Linked DNA regions of Homo sapiens: regions 1, 2 and 3 are each linked to region 4. Evidence: fine-mapped expression QTL. A gene starts in region 4. Each other region holds a variant in brackets. All regions are shown on one strand. Distances are between the middles of the regions.

Region 1 (5,155 bases), 46 kb after region 4:
GAGCTCCAAGATGTCATCCATTGTAAAATGCATTCTGATTTCAGAGACATTAAAATGGTGGGGGCAGGGGGAAGTGCATTGTAGAGTGGATAGCAATACAGGGCCTTCCCAGCATTTCTAAGCTGGTATTTTCTCAAGGGGCCTGAGAAAACCTGCTGGTCCCCAGGCTTCCCTGCTGCAGCTCCAGCCCATCCCTCCCTTTTGTCCTTCTGTCTCCGGGCTGCACAGATTGTTGGGCTCCAAGGGGCATCCCAAAAGAATACACAAGTGAGTAGCTTCTCCATCCTGGCTGGAGCTTGTGTTCATGGTAGCGGAGTGAGGAAAGGTTCTCAGTGCTGCTCCAGTTACGCTGGGCTGGTTCTGGCTCCAAAGAAGCCTGGTGAGTTCTTTGTCCACTCTGGAGCTTGTTGAGGGAAAATGCAAAGCCACATAACACATGGCACCTTGTATTTGCCATGATGGTCCCAATTTCTTGTTCTTTTTTTAAAATGGAGATTGGCTAAATATATAACCCAAGGTGCATTATTCTTACATGAGAAATTTTTTTGAGACAAATAAAGTGGCACAGTATATTTAAAAATCTATTGTTATCAAAACAAGCATTTTGATTTTTGATTGTGAAAATATGATCAACTTGCTCACCACCCTCCAAATGTCATCTCCATCTTTCTCCCAGGTGGCCCCTGGGCATGCATAAAAGCTTACAAAACTCCAAATCACAATCCCCAGTCAACAAGAACTTAGTGAGCACCAAATACATGCATGGACACTGTTATTTTCCAGCTGTTACAGGTTGAGCTACTTGACAGTGTTTCCTGGGTGGAGGATGAACAATCTAATCCTGTAGCTGCCAGGCCTCACTCCAGGGGTGGCTGCCTCTCCCCTAAGGCACCTTTCTGTGCAGGAAAGTGGGGGTAATTGCTGCTCCTCATTCCACCCTCACCATGCAGATGCTTGCAGACAAGGTTCCATGGGTCCTCTGAGGCCTCCTAGGCTTTTCTTTCTCAGCTGCCCTGGTGGAAGCCAGGAGAAAGAGAAGACTGCATTTGTGTGGTGACCTGCAAGCTACTGGTCATCAAAGAGCCAAAGATCTCCTCATCTGTCTCCAGGACTCTTTGCTCTGCCCTAGCTCAGAAGGGCAAAGATCTACAGAAATATCTTTCAGAGTCATCCATTCTAGTGCTCAGGACCCCTGCCTGTCAAGTTCTTCCTAACATCTAGCCTAACTCCAGCCTTCTATAATAGTGGCTCTCTTCAGAAGCTTCAGAGTGGAACTTCCCCAATCAGAGGTCTAGAATGCATCAAGGTGCATAGAAATATTAGGTCAGTTGGGATGTAGAGGCAGGCACTTCCAACCTCAGCAGCTTCTGCTATTCACCCTATATGCCTTACAAATGCTACTATTTTCTGTGCGTGCCCTAATTTGGAAATTAGCTAGCTCTCAAGTTGAGAAGTACTGGAAGAGCCCAGATACCCGGGGCTAAGCTAGCCCACCCAGGCTGCCCCAGGCAGGCCACCCTGCTCAGGCCACCCACTGCACTGCCCCCCAGGAGTAGAGGAGGGGACAGGGAGTGGGCAGGCCTTCTGGGGTATAGATGAGGTATGGAAGGGGCTGCTTTCCCAGTCACGCCCCAAAACTGGCAGGCGCCCCAACCTATAAAGTGTATTGGAAGGGAAAAAAGCTCCTTTAAGGCTCAGCAGTTTGAGGCTGACACCCAAACCTGACATTTTCTCTCAGGAGAAACTTGGAAGGTGTAGCAACACTTAGTCCCCAGGCTGATGGAGTGGGGTGAAAAGGGTCAATCTGTTAGGACAGCCTGGGATCCAGGAAGAAAGCTGGCAGGTCCTGGGAGAACAGAGAGGATTTTCTCTGATCCTCTCTTTCTCTCTCTCTCTCTCTCTCTCTCTCTCTCTCTCTCTCCCTCCCTCTATCCCCACCACCTCATTTCTATTTCATCTGGGGCACAGAGCTAGAAAGGTGGGGGACAGAAGCCCTGGATGCAGCATAAACCCCAGCAACGTGTTTCCTATGCTTCCGTCTCAGCTTAAGTCTTGGTGCTGCCTTCCCTGAAAGTTCGGCACTTGAAGGAATCAAATTGTCTAATTAAAATTTAACAATTCCTTATCAGGCTTGATGGCGGGTGAGACACTCCTGTCTTAAACACATCATTTTTTCCTCTTTTCTGAGATGCAAAGCATTTCAATGAAAAAGTAGAGGGGGAGAAGAAAGCATTTTGTATTTGCATCTCAAAAGCAGCCTACTGGAGTGACTTGAGTTGGATAGGAATTGGGAGTGAGTGGGTAAGAGGT[TC/T]CTTTCCAGGACCCTGGCGATATAGGCCACCTGCCCCTACCCCTCCAGGCAAAGGCCAGGCTCTCACTTGGGGTTGGACCTTCTTTTAGCATCTCTTGCAACTTCAAAAAGGCAGCATGGAAATGGAAGAGGGAGGAAAGGTGGTGCGCCCGTTCCTTCCCACATCCAAGGGAAAAGGAGAGAGTTACTGAATAACACTTTTATGTTCTCTGGCCGAGGAGGCAACCTCAGCAGATGGCAGAGGAAATGGAGACCTCATTCCCAAAGCCCTAGGCCAGGCGGCTGCAGACCTTGGGTTGCCGAGGGTGGGAGTGGGTAGATGGACAGGCACAGTCACTGTCTGGAGGGCAAAGCCTCTAAGCCCTGGAGCTGGGGTGTGGAGGGTCTGTGGCGAGGAAAAAAAGGAGGGGGAGGAGAAACAGAAAGGACTGTGGGGACAAAGAGGAACCTGGAGCAATGGACGATGGCAACCTCCTGGGCTCACTGGGAACGGTTTTTCCTGCATCCCAGGCCCGAGTGCACAGGGGAGTGGGGTGTGAGGCTGTGGGTCTGGCCCCGGTGTCAGCAGTCACTCCTGAGGGAAGAAATGCAGATTGCTCTTTCCCTGTTAAGGGGAAGGGCTCCTCCTTCTTGAGCCCCTGGACTCCCCCACAAACCACAGCCTCAGCACTACTGTGGGGGAACAGGTCTGGACTAGAGACCTAGGCTGGGGGATACCCGTTAGTGGAAGCCCAGGGAGTGGCCTGGACTACCATTTGGGGGTGGCAGAGGCTGCTGTGGGAGACAGGGGGAGGCCACACACTAATACCCCATTTGCCCCTTCTCCCCCGGCATGGGGAGCCTCCCTGGAACCTGGAGTTCTTCAGAGGCAGCGAGGCAGCAGAGCTCAGGGACCGCGCAGCAGCTCTTGGCTATGTTATCTGCAGGGAACATTGTCTAGGTTTCTTTAGAAGGCGTGGAACAGCCTGGATGAATCTCTCCACTGGTGGTCTCTGGCTGTGTCTGGCCCTATGCAGCTGGAGCCAGAGAGTGGCTACAATCTCGAGGGCCTTCTGTGGCCCAGCTTGAGGTTGGCAACCCGGGTCGCCTGCTCCAAGCTTCTCCCCCTGCTCCCTGGAATTAAACCTGGCCAGCAGTTCCCAGTCTTACCTCCCACCTCACAGTAAAAATAGAAGCTAGCCTTCGGCACTTTCTCAATTTCCTGTCACCAAATCCATAAACTTACAGGCACAGGCAGCCACATGCACCCTCCTTGAGTCCCAACTCCTAACCCTAAGCCCCTTCCTGCCACTTGGGCTCAGCATAGCACACCCTGGCTGGCCTCCTCCTCCTTCTCACCCTTCAGGACTATCTTTCCAGCCCCTTCTCCAAGGAAGCCTTCCTGCCACTCCAGCTCAGAGCCCGTCTTCTCACTTAATGCTTTCACAACACGTGTGCTCCTCGGTGACACCCAGCACAGGTGTAATGAAGTCAGTATTTGTCTAGAGATTTGTTTGATGTCTGTTCTTCTTGCTAAACTGTGTGCAAGGCTCACATGTGTCTTGTCTCTCCTGGTCTTCTCCCTCCCCAGCACAGCCTTGGCAATAGCACATGCTCCACACGTTTGAGAGACGTCCATGGAGATAGCATCTCATTCAAGGGTGAAGGGGCCAGTCCCTAGGTCTTTTCCTACCCTGCAGTCATTTCTCCTCCCAGATCCTTCGTGAAGGGTACAATAGCCTCTTCTGAGATCTCCTGTTGACCCTCTGGGTCCCAGTCACAGTGGTAGCTGGGGTTGGGTGCCCAGCTGGTTCGGGTCCTTGCAGGGTGTTTCCCAGGTGGGCATCACTGTGGCACAAAGGTGTTATAAGGCATTGGAAAAAGAAGAAGAGGCACACAGATGAAAGTGAGTGTGGGGATGTGGGGAGGTGGGGAGAGGTCATAGCCAACACACAGTCTGTGGAAAGAAAAGCACAGAGCTGGTAGAGATGGCTTCTGGGCTTCTGGAAGGCCCAGGGCTTCAGAGTGTCCAGGTTGGCAGCACCCTGTGGGAGGGAAGTCACAGCAGGCCAAGGGAGCCATCCCCCCCCATCAGCACCAGCCAGAGACTACCAAGCATCCACAGTGAGTGAGCTGAGTGCAGCTGAGACTCAGTTCTCTATGGAGCACAAGGGTGGGGTGGGGGTGTCCCCAGGGGGAGGCTGGAGCACGCACAGTTCCTTGCCCAGCTATCGAAAGGGCCCCTGTGTGAGACTTTGTCTAGGAGCAGAGGAGACCACAGCTGAGCATGACCAGGCCTCCCCTTCTCCAGGGCTCTCATCCCAGACAACCCCGCTCTCTGCTTCTTCCCAAGGTGGCCAGGTGGCCCTGGGCCTGCTCAGGTGTCCCTGGGAGTGTGGCATCTCTGAGAGGCCTGAGCAGCAGCAGAATTTGAGTCTTCCCAGCCTTACCTTGTTGCAGGCCTCCAGGGTCTGCAGCGGGGTGAGGCAGGGTCTGGGAGATGCAGTGAATGCAGGAAGGGGTGTCTGCCTGACAGCCCCATCCCTGCAGATTTTGATGGCTCCGTAAAAATGTCTCCTCATAAACTGTCAAAGTGTCACAAATTAATTAACTGTTAGCTAGAGTGACTCAGTGTGGGGGGGGGTGGGGGAGAATGGCTCAGTGATGCTGAGCGGGGTGGTGGCGGTGCTGTTCTCTGCGTGTGCTGCCTTTTGATTAAAAATCCTCACCGCTCCGATACTGTGTGAGGGAAGGGGCAGATCCCTGGGGCAGCTCACGTGCACTGCAGAAGACTGGTGGGTGGGAGGCAGGTGGAGGTGTGGGGCTGGGGCCCCCTCCCTGAGAAGGGAACACAGTGGGGAGAAT
Region 2 (5,126 bases), 65 kb before region 4:
TCTATGCAGTAAATACAATTTAGATCAAAACCCGCAAAGTAGTATGTACTAAAATTCAGCAAGCTGATTCCAAAGTTTACGTGGAAGAGCAAAGGACCAAGAAGAGCCAAGAAAACTCTGCAGGAAAAAAAAAAAAAGCAGGACAACTTTCCCTACCTGACATTCAAGATTTATTATAAAGCCATAGTAATCAATGCATGGAGGTTTTCGTGCTGGAAAGGACAATCAGGGGAAAGGAATGAAGAGCCTGGAGAAGATTTGCACACATAACAGGGATGATGAGACACATTGCTGGCAGGGACTTCTCAACAAATAATGCTCCTGCCCTACGTGAAAGTCAACTCTAGGTGAATTACATACCTTAGTAAGAAAAAAACTTTAAAACTTTTATAAGACACCATAAGAGAGTATATTTATAACCTTACTGACACAAAAGACCTAAATTGTAAAGGAAAAGATGGTATATTTAACACACTAAAATTAAAAAGAAAATCTCTTCAACAACATATTCCATAAAAACAAATGAAAAGACAAAGAATACCCAAGGGGAAGATGTTTGGAAATACATGTAACCAGTCCAGAATATATACAACTGATACGGGTAGGAGATGGGAATAGTGGATAGAAGAGGGTGGTTCCCTGGCAAAGACCCCACCCTCAAGCCGGGAGATCTGCAGCGCTAAGTGGAAACAGGCATTTCTGTTTTCGTGCCCAAAAAGTTGCCTTTTGGCCTGCCATGCTCCCCTATCCTGTGCCCATGTAAACTCTGAACCCCAGGCTCCAGAAGCAGACGAGCAGGTGAGATGAGGACACAAGCAGACAAATGGCAGAACGACACAGTAGAGAAAAGAGGAGGAATGTCTGAACGCCGAGAGGAGTTTGGCTGGGAGCAGCCAGAGGGGAGTTGGGCCACTGGATGGCCAGGCTCCAGGGGAAGATCATCTTTCCCCTCCATTCCCCCTTCCAGCTCCCCATCCATCCCACTGAAAGCCACCTCCACCACTCAGTAAAACCCCACATTCATCCTTTAGTCCTGTGTGTGACCTGATTCTTCCGGGGATGCTGGGCAAGAGCTCGGGATACAAAAAGCTGTCACTTCCCTCTGCCCTTGTGAAAAGGCAGATGTCCGTCAAGCTGGTTAACAATCAAGTCGTCCGCAGATGGCAGGGCTAAAAGGACACGCTGTAACACGTGCCCAACTGGGCTCCTGCACTTGTCCGTCTGCGTTCTCCCCCTCCCCTCAGGGGTTTGAGCAGTGGTGGTGACTAAACAGGCAAGCCACACCCCTGTCGCATGTCCTGCGAGGGGGATCAGAGAACTCCCCTGTTTCACAATCAAATCAACCAGGCATGGTGGTGTGTGCCTGTAGTCTTTGCTACTCAGGAGGCTGAAGCAGGAGGATCGCTTGAGCCCAGGGGTTCAAATCGAGCCTGGACAACATAGCAAGACCATCTCTTAAAAAAAAAAGAATTTTTTAAAAAAGAAATTATATTAACTAATAAGAAAGAGACAATGACCCAATAGAAAATTGGCCAAGGATAGGAGTAGGCTCTTCGTAGAAATCCAAATGGGTGCAAATCAATAAGAAGATGCTCAATTCCAATCAAATTCAGCGAAATGCAAATTAAAACAATGAGATACCATTCCCATCCATTACATTGACAACAATTAAAAAGTTTAACCCAGCAAGTGATGATAAGAATGTAGAAGAATGGGAACTTCCTCTTGTACTCTTTTGTAGGAGTAAAAATTGGTACAGCCATATCCTGAAGGATATGTAACATGTGCACAAGGAAATATGTACATACAGGTATTCAATTCAGCATTTATTTACTTTAGAAAAAACTGAAAAACCACCTGGCTATCAATAAGAGAATGGATTAACTATGGTATATATAATGGTTTAAATGAATCAACTGGAACCATGTGTATCAAGAACACATCTCTAAAGCATCTTAAGAGAAAAAAGTAGGTTGCAAATGAATGCACATTTTATACAACTATTTTAAAAAATTGTTTAAATATTACATACACAAATATTCTGGTAGATTGCAAGAATGGTTACAAATTCCTTTCTTCCCATCAAGAGTGGAGCCTATTTCTCTGCCACTTGAATCTGGGTTGGCCATGTGTGTTGCTTTGGCCAAAAGGATGTTTGCAAACATGACACAAGCAGAGGCTTGAAAAGTGCATTTGAATTAGGGCTTGCACTCATACCACTCATGAGAAAGTAAGACACACTTACCCGGGTTGCTTGCATTTCTCAAGCCAACAGCCAGCAGACTTTCTAAAGCAGAGCCACTTAGATGACTGACAGTTGACCATGGATATATGTGTGAGTCCAGCTGAAACCAGAACTGGCCAGCTGAATTCAGCTCAAATTGTTGACATAGATAATTGTAAACTAAGCCACAAAAATGGTGGTTTGTTTCAAACCACTAAGTTTTGATGTGGTGTGTGATGCAGCAAAATCTAAATGATACAAATACTAAGTATTAAAGCATGCTGGAGAAAAGATAC[C/T]ATCAACTTATAAATGGCATAGAAACAAAAATATTATATTACTTTCGGTATGCTTGAAATATTGTACAATTAAAAATTTATAATTTCCTTGAAGACTCAGTGGGAAATGAAGAAATTAGAACAGGAAAATGAATTAAGAAGTTTAATTGTGAAGGGGAGGAGACAGAGCATTAGGAGAGATTTAAAGTACATAATTTAGAAGGAAGCTGGTCGAATGGAATAGGTTGAAAATATTGCGCAATAGGATTATTAATTGGTGATGCAGCGTTCCTGATTATGCAAAATATGACAATGGAATCCTGGGCCCAGGATGAGGGACTAACCTTACAGAAGAATGGGCACCTTTTCCTGGTAGTAAGGAAGGATGGATGTAGGTATAGGCAGTTTTGTAGTTTTAATAGCAGGAAGTCGATGGCATCTCTTTCCTCTCTGAATTGATAAATAAGGGCATCTTTTTGAGATGGTCAGGTTTAGATTGCAAACTGTTAAAAGTCATTGGGGGAGTGACAGGATATCTTGCCCAGGATAACAAGGATTGCTGGGCATCACTGAAGGTCCAGTTGAGTTTGAGTTTGGACCAGTCCCCCAGGCATCTATCTGTCTCCCTCAGTACATAGCATTCCTAATGCAGACTGGTAGAATTGGGTAATTGGAATTATGTAGAGCTGGAATTTTGTCTGTTAGGTGAGATAGCAGGGCAAGGGAGTTGAGTATATGGGCAGGATGGCTGCTGAGTGATTGACCATGGAATCTAAGCTGGATAAGCAGTAAAGTGAAGACAGGTGAGGATAGGGTTAAGGGCTGCTGTTTTGCGATTTTGAGCTGCCTGTACTTACATGTTTGTCTCCCACACAAGTTCATAAACTCTTCAAAAAAGGATCTTTTTTTATTCATCATTGTTATCTATAGCATCAGCATAATATCTAACTCATAATGAGCTCTCCATAAATTATTGTTGAATTGAATAATGGCTTAAAACTCTGTTCCTTAAAGCTAATAGCTATACTCACCTGCAACTTTTTCTAGGCAAAAAAAAAAAAAAAAAAACCTGTTGTTAATTTTTTCTCATTGGTTCTGCTTGCTCTATTTTGCTTTCTATTGCTCTATTTTTTTCTTTAAGATCTTTCCCATGCATTTTATGCACCATCCTTTCTAGTGAATAGAGTCTTTTGAATATCTTGTTTGATTAAGTCACACCTGATTTCTTCTCTAGCCAATTTAATTCAGGAGATGAATTCTGATGACCCAGTTGTGCAACAGAAAGCTGTCCTGGAGACAGAAAAGAGACTACTGCTTATGGAGGAAGACCAGGAGGAGGATGAATGCAGGACCACCTTGAACAAGACTATGATCAGTCCTCCACAAACTGCTATGAAGGTTTCTTTTTCTATTGAGAAGTTATATAAGTACTTACAGTGAGAAGACCTACACCTAGGCAGTAGTTTAATCTCAAACTGTCCAGCAAGGCTGAAATGGTCTTTTGTTTCTTAGATTTATTTTTTATAAGAAAGTATAAAATTTGATTTTTTTTTTCCTTTGATCTTTCTGGGTTATCTTTAAACAACCCTTTGGATCTATTTTAATGGAAATTTCCCCTCTCCACCCCCTGAGCTTGTGTGATATATTTAAGCTGTACCTTTAAGGTAATGTATTCTAACTCATTTCCAACTCATAAGCCACAGCTGAGGTCCCTTGACCTGGGCAGCCTTGTTTTGCAGACTCGGTCCCATAGCAATTGTGCCCATACTCAGATCTCCTGATTTAAAGCAAGCCCCATGAATTCTGAGCCCTTCAGTTTTGATGGTTAAAAGAAATGACCTCTTGTTTGTAATTGATTTGCCTTCTTGGTTTATATACATATAAATTAGAGTGGTTTTTGAAATTTGTTTCTTTGTTTTTATGGTAACCTACGTCTACAGAGTGCAGAAGAAATAAACTCAGGTAAGGACAGCATCTCTCTTCCCAATTTTCATTCTTTATATAGGACCAGTTTTGATTGATTGTAGCTCCCAGACCCTTAAATTATTGCCTTTGAGCTTACAAACAACCTGTGAACAAAAACCTACTGATCATCCCATTCTGTTACTAGTGATCAGCGGGAATGTCCCTGAGAGGTTTTTCTTTATTTTCTCTTGGTCAACCTTTTGTAAACTCAATTCAGTTATTCTGTATCATCCAATTTACCCTGTTCAAGGGATCCAGATAGTTTCTCTGTTGCTCAGCTCAGAAGCTCATTATGCTAAACGGAACAAAAAAATCTCTCTTCAAAGAAAAACTCTTTTAAAAGACATAATTCAAATTTGAAGCACAGTCATAGCCATCATGTGTAATAATGCATCACACAGATTACCATTTAATGTCAAATGAAGAAAATGTCATTTTAGTTGCCTCAGAATGGTGTGTGTGCGTGTGTGTGCCTGTGTGCATATGCATACGTGTGGCTCTAAAGTAACACTTCGAATTTGAGCTAAAGAACTGATTATAGTATTTGGATTTTTCTTTTTAATATCTGAAATTACCCTGCTGTCAGAGGCCTTCTTGGCATCTGTGGAGAAGGATGCAAAGGAACGAGCCAAGAGAAGAAGGGAAAACAAAGTCTTGGCGGA
Region 3 (5,114 bases), 95 kb before region 4:
CAGAGCTGTGGTATGCAGAGGGGTAGAGTCCCTGAGGCTCTCAGGGGAAACCCAGATGAGCAGCTGGGCCTGGCTGGGAAGGGCACAGTGGGCTAAGACTGCCACCAAGTGGCCGTGCCAAGAACCACAGGAAACCAGGCTTTTCCCCCAACCTGGCCACCCAAATGGAAAGCTGCTGCCTGCCCCTTGGGCCTGAAAATGGAGGCTTCTCCTCCCCTCTGCTCCTGAATTGAGCTGTCCACATCTGCTGAACTCCAAAGGAGATAATGAAATCTAGCATTGATTTGCTATCCTACAGCTTATAAAATGATTCATACAGTAAGAATAATTACATGATAATATTAAGTATTGTTGCAGCAACTTGCATTAATTGAGGGCTTGCTACATGCCAGAAACTTTAAAATATCATCTCTTAATCCTTACAACAAATCTGTAGCAAACAAATGCATTTATCCAGCGGACATCCATTTTCCTTCCTTCTCTTAACAGTACTTCGATTTTTCTCTGGGAATGTTCCTTCCACTCCTAGGACTTTGTGGAAATGACTAGCAAGAAAGAAGCTCTGTTGGAACTCATAGGAAGAGAAGTCTTGAGCTTCCAGGTGCCACCCCAAGGGAAAGCCTGCCTGAGATTGAAACCAACACACAGGAAGCAGAACAGATCTCAGAGGCATTGGAGTCCCATGGACCAGACGTGCCTGAAAAATGCCTGGGTTTTTCAATTCCCTGAACCAATATATTCCCTTTACTGAAGTCAATTTGTGTGGGATTTTTTTTTAACTTAAAATAAAAAAGTACTAATAATTGCTATGTAATTTAAAAAATTAGCATGTGGAAGTAAGCTGTTGTAAGTAGCAGATCCAAAAATAGAGAATCATATGTCAAGGTGAGTGGGGGGGGGGGCATTTATTCATTACCATGTGCCACTCCCTGTTTGCTATAAACTGAATGTTGTTATTTACAGTTCATTTGTCGAACTCCTAACCCCCAATCCTAACCCCTAAGGGATTTTGGGAGGTGACTAGATCATGAGGGTGGATCCCTTGTTTAATGCCCTGATGAAAGAGACCCCAGAGAGCTCCCTCACCCATTCCACCATGTGAGGACACAGTGAGAAGAAGGTCTATGACCCAGGAAGTGGGACCTCACCAGACACCATTTACTAGTGCCTTGATCTTGGACTTCCAGCCTTCCCAACTGTAAGAAATACATTTCCGTTGTTAATAAGCCACCCAGTCTGTGGATTTTAGCCTGAATGGACTAAGGCACTGCTCTAGTGCTAGAGATTCAGTAGGCACCAAAATGGATGTGATCCATGCTCCCGAGTTAACTTCCTGGCGGAGAATGCCACCGTAAACCACTGAGAATGCAGCAGCTCTGCAGAGGCCTGAGCAGAATGATGGGATAGAGTGAGGTCACATGGCTTCTTGAGGTTGCATGGGCAGGGGCCGATGCAATGGGAATGCGCTCATCGACATGTTTGCTAGCAGTCACATTTCCTAGACCCCCTTGTTTGTATGGTTCCAGTTAGAATTAGACAAAGGAAGAACTCATGTGTGATTTGAAGGCAGAAGGACGTGGTGTCCATCATGCTCTTAAGGACTTATAGTCTCCTGCAGTGACAGAGAAATGTGGAGGTGCTCATGAGTCCTGCACACCTTTGCTCTCCTCCACGCAAGTTCAGCTGACCGTCAGCATCCTTCTGACCAAGCTCAACCTCAGGTCTACTGCCAGACATGTGGCCACGGGACACAGAGAGATCATAGCCTCCTATGGACCTGTTTATGAAATTCCCCTTCACACGCACATGGGGTGGCTCATGTGAGGGAGGAAGCAGCAGCCATGGAAAGAGAACAAGTTCAAGATCTGTGTTGGAAGTAGGCTTGGCAGGACTTGCTGGTAGGTTGGATGGAAGATGTGGCTTAAAAGGGGGTCAGGATGTCTCCTAGGCTTTGTCTTAAGCAAGAAAGCAAATGTTTCAGGCCATTTATTGAGATAAGGAGCCTATCTAGGATTGGAAATAAGAGTTCTTCTTTGGCCATTGTGGTAGGTTGAAAAAAAGGACAATATTGTGGTAGATTAGGGAAAAACTGGTCACACACACACATACACAAATGTCTTCAGCAACTCCCAATCATAATCATAAACTTACATTAAAAATGCAAATGCAATGCAAAGATGTTTCTTTTTCTTGAACACTTGAAAGTAAATTTCTGGCCAGATGCTCCAGCACCTGTGAATATTGTACTATTTCTTATAAGCAAGGACCTTCTCTCCCCTACATAATCAAGATCAAAATCAATGTCAAGAAATTAGCATGGGGCCAGGTGCAGTGGCTCACCTCTGTAATCCCAGCACTTTGGGAGGCCGAGGCAGTCAGATCACGAGGTCAGGAGATCGAGACCATCCTGGCTAACATGGTGAAACCCCGTCTCTACTAAAAATACAAAAAAAATTAGCCAGGCATGGTGGCAGGCGCCTG[T/C]AGTCCCAGCTACTCGGGAGGCTGAGGCAGGAGAATGGCGTGAACCCGGGAGGCGGAGCTTGCAGTGAGGCAAGATCGCACCACCACTGCACTCCAGCCTGGGCCACAGACAGACTCCGTCTCAAAAAAAATTAACATGGATACAATACTATTTTTTAACCTGCAGTCCTTATTCAAATTTCTCCAGTTGTTCCTCTGATGATCCTTAAACAAAAGAAAAATAATCTTTGTGTGTTCAACATTCACTCCAGGAACACACCATTTTTTTTAGTTTCATGCCTCTCTAGTCTCCATCAATCTGGAAGATGAGTTCTGTTTTGTTTGTCACGATCTTGACATTTTCGAAGAGTTCAGGCCATTGGTTTTGTAGAATGACCCTCAATTTTAGCTTGTCCAACATTTTCTCACAACGAAATTCAGGTGCTGCTCTTTCACAGGAATGCCATGGAGCTGGTCCTCTCACTCTGGCTTCATCTTACCAAGTGGCACGTGATCTCCATCCTCCTGTGTCTGACGATGCCCACTTGGATCACTTGATTAAGGTGGTGTCTGCCAGGCTTTTTTGCTGTGAAGTCACTCTTTTCCCCTCTTTGTAGTTAAAAAGCATTTGTTCATTGTGGTAGTATTAACATTAATTGAGGGCATGCTATGTGTAGAGGGACTTTAAAACTTTGTAAATATCCCGTGCCCCATCAAACTTTCAATTGATTGTTTATCTATCAGATAAACACTATCAGAAAACCACTAGACTAGACTAGTGATTGTCTAGTTTTCAGTGAATTCTGTTAGCTTCATTATTTATTTTGATGTGCAGATTGTCCCTGATCCGGTCACTCAGTGGGAGCCCATTCCATCTGGTTTCTGGTTTTTACATGACCTAATCATTCTTTGAGCACTTCATTACTTCCTGACACAACAGGATGTTACATTCTCATCTCGTCCTTTCTCTTCTTCAGTCCTGGAAGCAGCCATTTCTTCAGGAAACCTAAGTTTCAAGAGATGCTGGTGTAGTGTACTCATTGCTCCCAGGACTTCTCAGTGGACACATTGGTTTTCTCTGGAGAGCCTTGATACAAATGGGACATGGCAGAACTAGAACCTGAATCAAGACTTATTTTACTCTATGCTCAGAGCTCTTTATTTTTCTCAGTGAAAACTGGCTTAAGAGGAAGAGACACATATGTGTATGGATACATACATGTACCCTATTGTCACAGGATACTAGAAATATGTGGATAACCTCACATCTTTATCCTCTTCCTAAATGGTTCTTCCAAAGTCTGGATGGACAACTGTTTCCCCAGCACAATGAATTCAACCCACCAAAGCTTCTCATTATCCCTTTCTTCATCCCTCCTCCTCCAACTCCTCCCCTCCCCCGCCTTCCTCTGTTGCCTATCACAGAGAAGGGCAGAGCCATCCATTCGCTTCTGTAAGCTGAATAGCTGGCATTGTCATCAGAATCCTTCCTTTCTCTCTCCCCATTTCCAATTTGTCAATGTTTTCTATTGATTTTCTCTACTGAACATCTCTTGTATTCATCTCCTCCTCTCCAACCCGGCAACTGCTGACTTGGTCTCTCAACGCCTCCCATCTGTGCTTTGCAATTGTATGCACTTCCTTGCCCATAGGCAAAGTCCTGGTGGCTGAGCACCAGCCACAACACTAAGAAGTCAGCAAGTGAGAGGTGAGTAAAGGACATACATGTATAGTCTGTGGAGCTGTCTCAACAAGGAATGGCACAATCCAAGGCTACATCGATGCTCTAAGGCAGGGAGGCAGAGAAAAAGGATGGGGGTGTTCAGGCAGTGAGGACCAGTCCAGGGAGACGTAATAGAGGAAGGACTCAAAGCAGAAGGCAAGGCACAGAGCCTGGGGTCATTCCTCTGTCCGTAGCCGGAGAGCCTCCACCTTGTCCGGTTTCTTATCTTTCTGTAGTGCAAATCTGTGACTCACTTGCTTAGAACACATCAGTTGTTTACCTTCACCTGCAGGACAAAATCTCAATCCTTGGAATATCCCCCCTGTCTCCCTCTGTGCCTCACTGAGTGCAACTTCCCCTTGTATTACTCACTCCTATAAGATGGAATTACTGATAGTTTCCTGATGACACTGTGTTCTCTCACCTGTGTGCCTGCACACCTGCTCGTCACTGTGCCCACAGTGCCTTGCTCACCTGGCAAAGTCCTACTTCTCTTCCTTCTCCTATGCTTGTGTCACACACTGCACAATTCTCCACTGAAGCATTCATGCCATCGCATCATAACTGTCTGCAGGTCTTGCAGATTTGCAGGAAAGACCATAAGCTCCTTGAGGCCACTGTCTTCACATTGTCTTGTCATTGTCTTCATGCCCCTGCTCCATCCCCATGCCACTAAGTTGTTGCTCAGTACATTTGTTGAATGGATAAACAAATGAATTCATGAACTAGAAGTTGGGAGGAGAGAGTGGTTTAGGACAAGAAGTTGTAGGGGATTTTCTTTAAACTTTTAATGTGGAAAAATATTAGATTTACAGAAGAGTTGCAAAGATAGTATGAGGAGTTCCTGCATACACTTAACCCAGGTTCTTCTAATGTTACTCCCCTTTGGTTATATCTGATATAGCCAGAGAAGTCTTACCAACTAAAGAAT
Region 4 (5,155 bases):
GTTCTCCGTGACATGTTTGCAGGGTGGAGAACAGGGGCAGACTGGGAAACTTCCCTATATGCAAATAGCTTGTCATTCCGGTTTGGGGAAAGGCTCACATCAGATTTCAGCATCTTCTAAAGTATTGCAGAGCTCCTGTACCAGCTCACTTGTCTGGGAGGAGCAGGCTAAAAATCTTAGGTTCCCCAAAGACAATCACACATACACACAAAATTCATTTAATAACTCCAAATCCAGAACACTTCCATCTTCAATCTGCCCAAACAAAATGCACTGATAGAGGTTAGTTGGAAGGACTCAGAGCATTTTGGGGTAAAACTTCTATAGCTAGAACCTGTTCCTTGCCCCTTCTGGTGGGTGGGGGTCATAATTGGACTATAACCACTTCATTATCCATTCCCATTTGTAGGTAGATATGGGTAAAGGTAGAGTTTCCCTCCCAACCCCCCAGCTCTCTCCCCTCCACACACTGGCTGCTGACTTCCCAACCAGCCAGGACCTAGGGACTTCTGCACTCAGACCACTGGAAAGAAACCAGCAGCCTCTGAGTTGACTTTACTCTTTTGCAAATCCCTATACCTCACCCCACTTTTAATGAGAGATCCAGGAGTTCTTTGCCTCTGTGACCTTATACTCAGAAAGGGTCCCTCCACTTACAACTTCTCCCAGAGCTTATCCAAAGACTACTAGGCCTTTGCCCTAGCCCATGTTAGACAGCTGTAAGGAGCAGGACAAGCCCAGTCAAATGATCCAGTCCCTCTGGGTCAATGAATGTATCTATTTTGACTGACTCCTCAGAAGCCTCAGGGGTGCTTGAACCCACAGCAGAGAGTTTCAACAGGTGGGTCAGCAGTAATACGCCCTGACCCTGCAGTTCCTCCACCTCCACCCCTGTGAGAAATTCAGAGGTATTTTGTTCGGGATTCTGGCAACATGCCTTGAGCCCTGGGTGTCCCCTCTTCTAGGAATGATGCTTTCTTCAGTATTCCTGTGACAGTCTCTGCAGGCAGACAATGGCAGCTTCTGGTTACTTCCTCTCCCTGGAGAGCCACTTCAGGTATAAGTGGATCAAGGGGAACTGCTGAAATGACTCAGGCCATTCACCCTTGGTATTTCCTCCAGGAGCTGAGATAGGTCTCGCTGAATGTCAAAGATCGGGCCTCAGTCAAACTTCCGCAGAGCTGGGTGGCTGGTCACCTTCCCAGTCTCCATGTTCACCCTCCCAGTAGAAGGTATGAAACATCCTCTTGACCTCCTGGTCTCCCTGATGACAATGTCCTTTATCACCTTCCAAACTTCTCTGGCAGAGGCTTTAAACTTGGGCAGGCAGGGCTACTCCAGAGACAATGGGTTCTGTTATGCCCTGTCTTGCTCCAGCCAAAGCAAGCTGGGGGCCTCCCTCTGACATATGTTTGGGGGATACGTCCTGCTCCTGATGCAGTTTCCATCATCTCCACCCTCTTCCAGGGAGCATGACTCTCTCTCTTCCTTTTTTGTATTCATAAAAGGCTACTCCCTGATCCTCCCCTGGCCAACCATTTCCATAGAAACTAAGAGACTTGAGTTTGAATATCAACTACCACTTACTAGCTATGTGTCCATTGATTACTTATTGTCTTGAAGCCAGTTTCCTCATCTGTGAATAGAAGATGTTGACCTCATAACATTGTTGCAAGATAAACAGGATAATATATGTAAAGCAATGCAGTAACTGAAATAGTCACTGATCCTGGAACAAAGTGAGTGTTCAATTAGTAGTGGCTATCACTAGTTTCTATGACAACTGTCTCCAGGCCCAATCTTTGATCCTTAATCTGCTTGCCAGAATTCATCCTGGAAGTTGCAGGTAAGTTGTTACAGAGGGAGCAAGTTCTCCAGCTTCCACAGGGAGTCTCTGTTTGCCTATCATGCCTACACTGTTCCCTGGGAGTCTGGTGGGCTTGTGGCATGGACGAGGGGCTCTGCAGGTTTGGGCTGAAGGCAAGGCACTTCCTTGTCTGGTAGGTAGGCTCCTCAAACCTAACAGTGATCACTCTGAGGGCTCCTTGTGGACTTACTCAGCTGTAGGCAAATAGTGGCTGACTCTGCACTCCGTGGCCACAGTTCCTCCAGGTATGCCTGTCTCTGGGCAATGGCCCACTTGGTCAGTGCCCCTGGGGAGACCTGTCTGTTCAAGCACTTGTCATTTTCCCTGCTCTGAGGGTCTCCAAGGTGAGAGGGCAATCCCATGGACCCAGGACCCAGGGGAACCTCCAAGCTCAGCACTGGTCAGGCTCCAGCTAGAGCCTCCTCTCATCCCTGGCAACAAACTGCCCCTAGTAACTGCGCCAAGGAGGCCACCTCCCCCGTGGCCACCCCGAGGCTGGGGTCCATCCCTCTGAGGTTGGATAGAGCGCAGCCCAGGAAGGGAGTCCCCTGCAGACAGGAGCCCAGCCTCCCCCGCAACTCTGTCCCTGCTGACCCCTCCTTGGTAACCTATAGCACACCAAGGCTGGCTAACAAACAAACAAACAAAACCCCAACAAGAACAAAGGAAACATGAAACCAGTCAGACCAACAGATTCAGACCAGAAAATCCCCATTAAAATTGTTTGAGCCCCATACTTGCTGGATAGGGGCAGGGGTCCAGGCCTGAATCCTTCATAAACCATAAAACCTTGAATGCACTGAAGGAATGCATAAACCGATTTCACTTAGCGCTGGGCCTAAATAAACTGGATCCAACTTCTCAGGCTGGACTTCTTCCAGCTTCGGGACACCTTCTCCCAGCATCCCTCCCTAGGGGGAACTGGGGAAAATCAAAGGCTGAGACAGGGGAAATGCGAGGGCTTCGGAGGGACATACCCTCTTCCCCAGGCCCAGGTCGCTCCATCCCTGCTGGGGCCTCAGGGCTCATGTCTGGGATTTCCCCACCTTTGCGGGGCAGGAGCGGCTCCTCTTGGGCGGGGAAGGAGGCAGGGCCGGCTCGTCTCCCCATTCCCCTCTCCCGGACCCGAGGAGCAGGAAGCGGCGGCTCCTTCGGCCACCCAGGCAGCAGCCACAGCGGGGAGTGCGCGGCGCGGGGACAGGAAGAGAGGGGCAATGGCTGCCGACCCCACCGAGCTGCGGCTGGGCAGCCTCCCCGTCTTCACCCGCGACGACTTCGAGGGCGACTGGCGCCTAGTGGCCAGCGGCGGCTTCAGCCAGGTGTTCCAGGCGCGGCACAGGCGCTGGCGGACGGAGTACGCCATCAAGTGCGCCCCCTGCCTTCCACCCGACGCCGCCAGGTACTGCCAGCCTCGCCCTCCCCTTTCTCGGAGGAGAAACTGAGGCCCGGCAAGCTTTGGGCCCAGGGAGCTTGCGAGGAAGGAGTGGGCTGAGTTTGGGGCTGAGGACTGTCCCCCGCGGTATTTCTGAATTCCACCCAGTAGCCTGAGCCTCCCAGGCACACCCATACCTGTCTCCCTAACCAAAATAGAGTTGGCACATAATACCTGTTTGTAGACTCAACAGAGGTCAAAGGCAAGCGGGAACTACCTACCAAAGACGCCTTTATCCCATCTGACCTTCCGAACTTGTCCTGCCTGCTTCCATCCTTCTCTCCAGCGCCTTCTTCCCCCGGTGTCCTGTGGCAATAACTGCTCTTGACCGCTCTCTGCCATCCTCCTACCCACCCCAGCTCTCAGGGCAGGGCTGAGCATCCTGGGAGGCTGTGGCACTTTGCTCAGATCTGCAGGGAATCATGTTCTCTCTTCCCACGGTGGCGGGAGGGAGGAGGCCCCTCCCAATCAGTGCAGGCTGAGGAGGTCAGGGGATGGAGACTGCCCGGCCTGATGGCCTGTCCAGGCCCTTGGAGGGTCAAGTCTGGAGTTCTCTCATCTCTGTTTTTGTTTTTGTCCCTTGCTGTCATGCGCACTACAGCGACGCCTTGACATGCCCCTATTTTTCTCTTCCTACCTCTTTCCTACGTTTCCATTATTCTCTGTCTTCCCACTGATTTGGAATCCAGTCTCATTCCCACTGGAGTTGCATATACTAGCTGTGTGCTTGCACCTTGCAGCCATGAAGAAGACACTCGGGATGTTAAACCTGAGCATGATAACCATGTCCTCCTCCCAAGGCTCTGGGACATCAATTAGAGAGTCCGGGACGGGGGTCTCTCTGACTGGCATCTGGCTTGGATGCTATCTGTGGTTCTCTAGGATTACCATGCAAACTCTTAAGATACAGCCTCAGGTGCCACACACTCAGTTCCCAGGCCTTCCCCCACCTTATGAGGAGAGGAAAAATAAGATCGCCTAAGGCCCACTCACCTTCCTCCCTCAACATCTGCCTGTTGGTTTTGGAGGAGGGTCAGAGTATGCTAGGATTTGTCTAAATCATTTATAGCCTTTTGAATATAGAACGAAAGGAAACAGATGGCAGTGACATGATTACACTGTGAGACATTGATGCTAACTCCTGCCACTTTCCCTTCCCAAGTTCTGGGAATTCCCTGGGTGGAGGGGGTAAGATAATTAATGGTAATTAAGACTTAGTATGTATGGATTACTATACTAGGAGCTTTACGTGCATTACTTTACTAGATCCTCTTTCCAGCTATTCATTCATTCATCCACTTGACAAATGCTTACTGCTCTTCTACTATGTGTCAGGCACTGTTCTACACCCTGGGATTAACGATGAATGCAACAGATGTGTCCTTTCTCTCCGGGAGATTGCAGCCTAGGGGGAGGAAGACATTAACCAGATAACCCCACATGTAAATGTAAATGTGCTACTGTGAGAAGCTTAAGAAGGGGAGATTTGTGGCTCTAGGAGAGCTCATTAACAGAAAGTTTGACTGATATCAGAAAAGGCTTCCTTGAAGAAGTTACACTACAGCTGAAATGTGAAGAATGAGTATAAGTTAAGTAGGTGAGGAGGAGAAAGTTTTCCAAGAACAGACAACAGAGTGTGCAAAGAATCTGTGGCAAGAGGGGCATGGTAAGTACAAAGATGGGAAAAGGCCATGATGGCTGGAGTTGGGAGAGTAAAAGAGCAGTGGAAAACCACTGAGCATTTACAACCAGGTAGCGGTGGTGACCATGGGAGGGATTAATCAGAATTGCAGTATGGAGAATGCATTGGGAGGGGTAGAGTGGATTCTGGTTAAGTTAGGAGATTGTTATCTTCA

The links. PIP is the estimated chance that this variant, and not a neighbour inherited with it, causes the effect.
Region 1: its variant is fine-mapped to the expression of ANKK1 in tibial artery (GTEx, PIP 0.94).
Region 2: its variant is fine-mapped to the expression of ANKK1 in whole blood (TOPMed, PIP above 0.99).
Region 3: its variant is fine-mapped to the expression of ANKK1 in prefrontal cortex (BrainSeq, PIP 0.95).

Annotation. Positions count from the first base shown.
Region 1 is chr11:113,430,406-113,435,560 of GRCh38, forward strand. The region is part of intron 1 of DRD2 (dopamine receptor D2); the gene reads right to left. Among named protein-coding and RNA genes, the nearest start is that of MIR4301, 17 kb to the right of the region's middle. The variant TC/T (reference allele first, on the strand shown) is at 2,311.
Region 2 is chr11:113,319,555-113,324,680 of GRCh38, forward strand. It overlaps TTC12 (tetratricopeptide repeat domain 12), which reads left to right. Exons shown (of 22, transcript NM_017868.4): 3 at 3,734-3,897; 4 at 4,440-4,461; 5 at 5,051-5,126. Among named protein-coding and RNA genes, the nearest start is that of TTC12, 7.5 kb to the left of the region's middle. The variant C/T (reference allele first, on the strand shown) is at 2,521.
Region 3 is chr11:113,289,667-113,294,780 of GRCh38, forward strand. All of the region lies in intron 1 of TTC12-DT (TTC12 divergent transcript), which reads right to left. Among named protein-coding and RNA genes, the nearest start is that of NCAM1-AS1, 18 kb to the left of the region's middle. The variant T/C (reference allele first, on the strand shown) is at 2,482.
Region 4 is chr11:113,384,804-113,389,958 of GRCh38, forward strand. ANKK1 (ankyrin repeat and kinase domain containing 1) reads left to right here and starts at 2,976. Exons shown (of 8, transcript NM_178510.2): 1 at 2,976-3,266. The coding sequence starts at 3,082.